Linked DNA regions of Homo sapiens: region 2 is linked to region 1. The links come from fine-mapping of genetic effects on gene expression. A gene starts in region 1. The other region holds a variant in brackets. All regions are shown on one strand. Distances are between the middles of the regions.

The links. PIP is the estimated chance that this variant, and not a neighbour inherited with it, causes the effect.
Region 2: its variant is the best candidate, but not a certain one, in a credible set for the expression of GCLM in whole blood (TOPMed, PIP 0.52).

The regions. Positions count from the first base shown.
Region 1 is chr1:93,907,811-93,912,173 of GRCh38, reverse strand. It overlaps GCLM (glutamate-cysteine ligase modifier subunit), which reads left to right and starts at 2,744. Exons shown (of 7, transcript NM_002061.4): 1 at 2,744-3,136. The coding sequence starts at 3,011. LOC124904221 (a long non-coding RNA gene) reads right to left here and starts at 2,582. Exons shown (of 2, transcript XR_007066230.1): 1 at 2,020-2,582. RefSeq lists an enhancer at 2,221-2,380 and silencers at 2,421-2,660, 2,871-3,230, 3,281-3,330.
Region 2 is chr1:93,931,091-93,935,493 of GRCh38, reverse strand. No RefSeq gene overlaps it. Among named protein-coding and RNA genes, the nearest start is that of GCLM, 24 kb to the right of the region's middle. The variant C/T (reference allele first, on the strand shown) is at 2,540.

The DNA.
Region 1 (4,363 bases):
AACAAAGCTGGAGGCATCATGCTACCTGACTTCAAACCATACTACAAGGCTACAGTAACCAAAACAGCATGGTACAAAAGAGAGATACAGACCAATGGAACAGAATAGAGGCCTCAGAAATAACACCACACATCTACAACCATCTGATCTTTGACAAACCTGACAAAAACAAGAAATGGGGAAAGGATTCCCTATTTAATAAATGGTGCTGGGGAAATTGGCTAGCCATATGTAGAAAGCTGAAACTGGATCCCTTCCTTACACCTTATACAAAAATTAATTCAAGATGGATTAAAGACTTAAATGTTATACCTAAAACCATAAAAACCCTAGAAGAAAACCTAGGAAATACCACTCAGGACATAGGCATGGGCAAGGACTTCATGACTAAAACACCAAAAGCAATGGCAACAAAAGCCAAAATAGACAAATGGGATCTAATTAAACTAAAGAGCTTCTGCACAGCAAAAGAAACTACCATCAGAGTGAACAGGCAACCTACAGAATGGGAGAAAATTTTTGCAATCTACCCATCTGACAAAGGGCTAATATCCAGAATCTACAAAGAACTTAAATTTACAAGAAAAAATCAAACAACCCCATCAAAAAGTGGGCAAAGTATATGAACAGACACTTTTCAAAAGAAGACATTTATGCAGCCAACAGACACATGAAAAAATGCTTATCATCACTGGTCATCAGAGAAATGCAAATCAAAACCATAATGAGATACCATCTCACACCAGTTAGAATGGCAATCATTAAAAAGTCAGGAAACAACAGGTGCTGGAGAGGATGTGGAGAACTAGGAACACTTTTACACTGTCAGTGGTAGTGTAAACTAGTTCAACATTGTGGAAGACAGTGTGGTGACTCCTCAAGGGCCTAGAACTAGAAATACCATTTGACCTAGCGATCTCATTACTGGGTATATACCCAAAGGATTATAAATCATGCTACTATAAAGACACATGCACAGGTATGTTTATTTTGGCACTATTCACAATAGCAAAGACTTGGAACCAACCCAAATGTCCATCAATGATAGACTGGATTAAGAAAATGTGGCACATACACACCATGGAATACTATGCAGCCATCAAAAAGGATGAGTTCATGTCCTTTGTAGGGAATGGATGAAGCTGGAAACCATCATTCTGAGCAAATTGTCGCAAGGACAGAAAACCAAACGCTGCATGTTCTCACTCATAGGTGGGAATTGAACCATGAGAACACTTGGACACAGGGTGGGAAACATCACACACTGGGGCCTGTCATGGGGTGGGGGGTTGGCGGAGGGATAGCATTAGGAGAAATACCTAATGTAAATAACGAATTAATGGGTGCAGCAAACCAACATGGCACTTGTATACATATGTAACAAACCTGCACATTGTGCACATGTACCCTAGAACTTAAAGTATTATAAAACAAAAAGTATAGACAAATCTTATTCAATCTTGAGTTCAGAAGATAGTTATATCGGGTTTCATTATAGTATTCTTGCTATTTTTGTATATGTTGGAATTATTTACAACAAATGTTAATTGTATGTTACAGTGCATCAAAATGTGTTTAAGTAGTGGTGGTGCTTGTGGGTAGCTCTTTCACTATAATAAAAAATCAATATCCAAAAAAAAAAAAAAAAAGCAGCGCAAGCTCGTTCAATGAACTCTTACCATCATTCATTCAGCCAACAAATATTTACTCAACATCAGGCTCAATTTCTAACTTCCTAGAAAGATCTTTTTTCCCATCCCTCCCCTAATTCTTACCATTTTACCAACTGGTTCATCTCTCTTTTCAATAGCTATATTGTCCCCGCTTATAATGAGAATCTCATTTTGCCTTTAATAATCTGATTCACCTCAACGAATGTGAAAGATTGTTGAGGAAAGCTCAATACATGTTCAATTTGATGTTTATACCGAGTCCACCACCACACGTGAAATTTAATAGGGGTAAATAATCTCGACCACCTCTAAAGGGGTGGGTGATAAAAGCTTTCTGTGATCTCACCGGCTCAAGTGTCCTCTTTAATCTGAATTCATCTGGAGAATAACTGCCCTATGATGTTCTTATAAAATTACTTGTTTCCTGTGCTTAGAACTTGTCTCTGGGTAGAGTGTACGCGTCTCAAGGGCAAAGACTCAGTCTTGTTCGTTGACTTCACACACTGCCAGCAAATAATGTGAATCAATAGACCTTTAACGGATGAAGAAAAATTAGCAGTTTGGGAGAAGGTCCTTGAAGGTAGCAAAGCGAAAAGAAGAAGGGGGCGCTTGCGCATAAACAGCTGCTTCTGAGAACGAAAACTACGTAGCATTTCCGAGTCCCGGTGGCCGCTCAGGCTGCCCTTTAAAGAGACGTGTAGGAAGCCCACCCTGGGGCGGCCGTGGGCGGAGCCGCGACCTGAACGCCGGGAGACCTCACCAGGCGGAGGCGGTGTCTACCTCACCAGGCGGAGGCGGTGTCTGCCTCGCGCTGTCCTCTGACCGCCAGGGGGAGCCCTGCCGCGCGCTGCGCTCCGGGCCGCGCCGCCACGCTCTCTCGACCCGCGCGCCCGCCGCGCACCACCCGTCGCCACGCCCGCCGCAGGCCAAGGGCCAGTCACTTGCGGGCCGGCGTCCCGCAGCCCATTCGCGCCCCGCCCCTGCCCCGCCGCGGGATGAGTAACGGTTACGAAGCACTTTCTCGGCTACGATTTCTGCTTAGTCATTGTCTTCCAGGAAACAGCTCCCTCAGTTTGGAATCAGCTCTCCCGCTGCGGCCGCAGTAGCCGGAGCCGGAGCCGCAGCCACCGGTGCCTTCCTTTCCCGCCGCCGCCCAGCCGCCGTCCGGCCTCCCTCGGGCCCGAGCGCAGACCAGGCTCCAGCCGCGCGGCGCCGGCAGCCTCGCGCTCCCTCTCGGGTCTCTCTCGGGCCTCGGGCACCGCGTCCTGTGGGGCGGCCGCCTGCCTGCCCGCCCGCCCGCAGCCCCTTCGCTGCGCGGCCCCTGGGCGGCCGCTGCCATGGGCACCGACAGCCGCGCGGCCAAGGCGCTCCTGGCGCGGGCCCGCACCCTGCACCTGCAGACGGGGAACCTGCTGAACTGGGGCCGCCTGCGGAAGAAGTGCCCGTCCACGCACAGCGAGGAGGTGAGCGTGGCGACACTCGCCGCGGGGCTCCCGGGGCAGGCCTCGGGCGGGGCCGGGCGGTTCCGGCAAGGGAGAAGCGCCCGCGGGCGAGGGAGGGTGGCAGGGCCTCGCGCGCACCTGGGCTCCGCCCGCGGTCAGATGCTGAGGCCAGTGTCGACGCGACCTTGGGTCCAAACCCGCTGCCGAGGGCAACGCGTCTAAAAAACTTAGCCGGTGCAGCTGCGCACTGAGTGACACCTCTCTCGGTGCTTAAGGCTGGTAGCAAAACTCTCAAACATCCTGGGTCCCTCTTCCTGGCACGGAGGTCACAGAGGGCCAGGACGTCGCTCCGTCTCTCTCCACATCTCTCGCTTCCTTCCCCCACCCTGTCCAGGTAAAGGAATATTTTCGGAGATTATCCTTTGGTGCATTCAGATGAAGTAGTATTCATAGTACACCTAACTTTTAGAATGTTGACATTAGACTCTCTATTGCAGTGAGGCAAATGAGTAAGCACTCAATTTTGGCTTTGGAATACCCTAAATACCCTGACTTTAGTCATTACACATTTTATGCACTTATCTGTGCGTCTATGTATGCTTTATCAGTACACATTCTATGCATGTAACAATATCATTGTACATTCTATGCATGTAACAGAATATCACATGTGCCCCATAAATATGTACAAATATAATCTATCAATTCAAAAATTAAAGTTTTGTAAAAACTGGAAAATAAAAAGACTAGTCACTAGTTGGAGGTGACAGAGATTAATCTGGAATTACAAACTTGTTACCTATTTGTTGGCCATTTCTGAGCGGATAGTCATCCACTGCACATTGTGCATATTGGTGGTATGGGACAATTTTAGTATTTAAAAAATAACAAAATCTTTAGATTTAGGAGCTATATGACTTTGGAAAATTACTTTAAAGTTGGATAATAACACCTTCCTCATCAGGTTGTTGTGAGAATTAAGAGGTAATATATGAAAACGCTCACCATGCAGGCATCTATCTCCCTGTCATCTGGTTCCATCAGAAAGATAAATCTTAATTAAGAGAAAAACCTTCCTAAACTATGTGTGTTTAGAAAAACCTTCCTAAATCAGCTGTGTTCCTAAGTGGTTTCTGCTCTCTTCTATGAGATGTTGGTAACAGACCATGCAGCAGCACACGGCATCCCTCTGAGTTAAGTGCTGGACCTGTGCCCAGGCCTGTTGTTGGGGTCAGTGCCCATCAAGAG
Region 2 (4,403 bases), 23 kb before region 1:
TAAGGGCCCTAGGATTTTCACAATGGTAAATGCATGGGCCTCACCTTAAAATTACCTGCTGCATTGGGCCCTATCAAGAGAGTCAGCCTGTCCTTTGAAGCTTTGAAGCCAGGCATTGACTTCTCCTCTCTGGCTATGAAAGTCCTAGATGGCATCTTCTTCTGATATAAGGCTGTTTCATGTACATTGAAAATGTTGTTTAGCATAGCTACCTTCATCAATGACCTTAGCCAAATCTTCTGAATAACTTGCTATTATTATTAATACATTATACTCTGGGTAATGAACAATCATAAAAATCCCCAACCCAACAGCATCCCTAATAATTACTGTGGCACTAGTTATAAAACTTGGACTCTCCCCATTCCATTTTTGAGTCCCAGAAATAACAGAAGGAAATCCACTAATATCAGGCATAATCCCATTAACATGACCAAAACGGGTACCAATTTCAATTCTACTCCAAGTATCATCAATTGACCTAAACATAATACCAATCATTGCTATAATATTAATTCTTGTAGGAGGCTGAGGACTAAATCAGACACAATGACAAAAAAACTTAACCTATTCATCAATTACAATAATCTTGTCTACGAATTTACATTATACTAAAAATTACTGTATTCATAATATTCAGTTTAAACACAACTATCACAACATTATCACTTCCACATACATAAAATAAATTATCACTAATAACTTCCACAATCCTTATAATCCTATTATCTTTAGGGTTACAATCACCACTTACAGGATTTTTACCCAAATTAATCATTATTCTGGAATTAACCCCCAAAATAGCATTATTATACCAAAATTTATAGTTATCATGCATTATTCAACTTACATTTTTATATACAATTGTTAGTGATGTTGAGCATCATTAACAATATTCCCAACAACCAACAACATGAAAACAAAGAGACAATTCAAAAATACAAAACATTCTTTCTATCATTACTTGTTATACTATCAACCTTTTTCCCTCTGACTTGCACCAATATTCTCAACACTGGACTAGGAATTTAATTTAGACAGACCAAGAACCTTCAGATCACTAAGGCTGGGCATGGTGACTCATGCCTGTAATCCTAGCACTTTGAGAGACCAAGACAGTTCAAGGCATTACTAGAGGCCAGGAGTTCAAGACCAACCTGGCCAACATAGCGAGACCTCGTCTCTACAAAAAAAAAAAAAGACTAAGAAAGTACTCCATACTTAATTCCTGAAAAATAAGGACACAAGACTCTATCTTACATCAGCAGAATGCAAATCAAACACCTTAATTAAGCTAAATCCTTACTAGACAGATCAGTGGCATCCAATCCCGCAGAGAGTTAGTTAACTGCTAACTCTAATCAACTGGGTTTAATCTACTTCTGCCATCAAGGGAAAAAAGGTGGGAGAAACCCTGGAAGAATTAGAGCAGCTCTTTTGAGTTTGCAATTCACTTTAAATATTCACCACAAGACTTGGTAAAAAGAGAGCTCAATCTCTCTTTAGATTTATAGTCTAAAGCTTACTCAGCCATTTTACCTTACTGTCTACATTCATTAATCTTGACAAACCACAAAGGTATTAACACACTGCATTTACTATTTGATGCTTGAGCTGGAATAGTAGAAACTTTCCTAAATCTTTTAATTTGAACTGAAATGGGTCAATCAGTGGCCCTGATAGTTGATGATCAAATTTTATAATGTCATCATCACTGCCTATGTGCTGGTAATAATGTTTTTTATTTATTTATTTTTATTATTTTTCCATAGGTTACTGGGGTACAGGTGGTGTTTGGTTACATGAGTTTTTTTTTTTCGTTTGTTTGTTTTTTGTTTTTTGACACGGAGTTTTGCTCTCGTCGCTCAGGCTGGAGTGCAATGGCGTGATCTCAGCTCACTGCAACCTCTGCCTCCCGGGTTCGAGCGATTCTCCTGCCTCAGCCTCCCAAGTAGCTGGGATTACAGGGATGTGACACCACGCCCGGCTAATTTTTATATTTTTAGTAGAGATGGGGTTTCACCACGTTGGCTAGGCTGGTCTCAAACTCTTGACCTCAGGTGATTCATCCACCTCAGCCTCCCAAAGTGCTGAGATTACAGGCGTGAGCCACCACACCCAGCAGTTTATATGAGTAAGTTCTTTAATGGTGATTTGTGAGATTTTGGTGCACCCATCATCTGAGTAGTATACACTGCACCCTATTTGTAGTCTTTTATCCCTCGCCCCCACACTCCCACTCTTACCCCCAAGTCCCCAAAGTCCATTGTATCATTCTTATGCCTTTGTGTCCTCATAGCTTAGCTCCTACATATCAGTGAGAACATAACGATGTTTGGTTTTCCATTCCTGAGTTACTTCATTTAGAATAATAATCTCCAATCTCATCCAGGTTGCTGGGAATGCCATTAATTCATTCCTTTTTATGGCTGAGTAGTATTCCATCATATATATATATATATATATATATATATATATATATATATATCTCACAGTTTATCCACTCATTATTGATTGATGGGCATTTGGGTTGGTTCCA[C/T]GATTTTGCAATTGCAAATTGCTGCTATAAACATGTGTGTGCAAGTATCTTTTTCATATAATGACTTCTTTTCCTCTGGGTATATACCCAGTAGTGGGATTACTGGATCAAATGGTAGTTCTACTTTTAGTTCTTTAGGGGATCTCCACACTGTTTTCCACAGTGGCTGTTACAGTTTACATTCCCACAAACAGTGTGTAAGTGTCCCCTGATTACTGCATCCATGCCAACATCTGCTTTTTTAAATTTTTTGATTACGGCTATTCTTGCAGGAGTAAGGTGGTATCGCATTGTGGTTTTGATTTGCATTTCCCAGATCACTGGTGATGTTGAGCATCTTTTCATATGTTTGTTGGCCATTTGCATATCTTCTTTTGAAGATTGCCTATTCGTGTCCTTAGCCCACTTTTTGATGGGATATTTTTTTCTTGCCAATTTGTTTGACTTTGTTGTAGATTCTGGATATTAGTCCTTTGTCAGATGCGTAGACAGTGAAGATTTTTCTCCCATTCCGTGGGTTGTCTGTTTATTCTGCTGACTGTTCCTTTTGCCATGCAAAAGCTCTTCAGTTTAATTAAGTCCCAGCTATTTATATTTCTTTTTATTGCATTTGCTTTTGGGTTCTTGGTCATGAAATCCTTGCCTAAGCCAATGTCTAGAAGGGTTTTTCCAAGGTTATCCTCTATATTTTTTACAGTTTCAGGTCTTAGATTTAAGTCCTTAATCCATCTTGAGTTGATTTTTGTATAAGGTGAGGGATGAGGATCCAGTTTCATTCTCCTACATGTGACTAGCCAATTATCCCAGCACTATTTGTTGAAAAGAGAGTCCTTTCCCCACCTTATGTTTTTGTTTGCTTTGTCAAAGATTAGTTGGCTGTAAGTATTTGGGTGTATTTCCAGATTCTCTATTCTGTTCCATTGGTCTATGTGCCTATTTTTATACCAGTACCATGCTGTTTTGGTGACTATGGCCTTATAGTATAGTTTGAAATCAGGTAGTATGATGCCTCCAGATTTGTTCTTTTTGCTTAATCTTGCTTTGGTTATGCAAGCTCTTTTTTGGTTCCATATGAATTTTAGAATTGTTTTTCTAATTCTGTGAAGAATGATGGTGGTATTTTGATGGGGATTACATTGAATTTGTAGATTGCTTTTGGGAGTATGGTCATTTTTACAATATTGAGTCTATTCATTTACAAGCATGGGATGTGTTTCCATTTGTTTGTGTCATCTACAATTTATTTCAGCAATGTTTTGTAGTTTTCCTTGTAGAGGTCTTTCACCTCCTTGGTTAGGTATATTCCTAAGTATTTTATTTTATTTTTTGCAGCTATTGTAAAAAGGGTTGAGTTCTTGATTTGATTCTCTGCTTGGTCACTGTTGGTATATAGAAGAGCTACTGATTTGTGTACATTAATCTTGTATCCAGAAACTTTGCTGAATTATTTTATCAGTTCTAGGAGCTTTCTGGAGGAGTCTTTAGGGTTTTCGAGATAAATTATCATATCGTCAGGAAACAGTGATAGTTTGACTTTCTCTTTACCAATTTGGATGCCCTTTATTTCTTTCTCTTGTCTGATTGCTCTGGCTAGGACTTCCATTACTATGTTGAAGAGGAGTGGTGAGAGTGGGCATCCTTATCTTGTTCCAGTTCTCAGAGGGAATGCTTTTTGATTTTTCCCCATTCAGTATTATGTTGGCTGTGGATTTGTCATAGATGGCTTTTATTACATTGAGGTATGTCCCTTGTATGCCGATTTTGCTGAGAGTTTTAATCATAAAGGGATGCTGGATTTTGTCAGATGCTTTTTCTGTATCTATTGAGATGATCATGTGATTTTTGTTTTTAATTCTGTTTATGT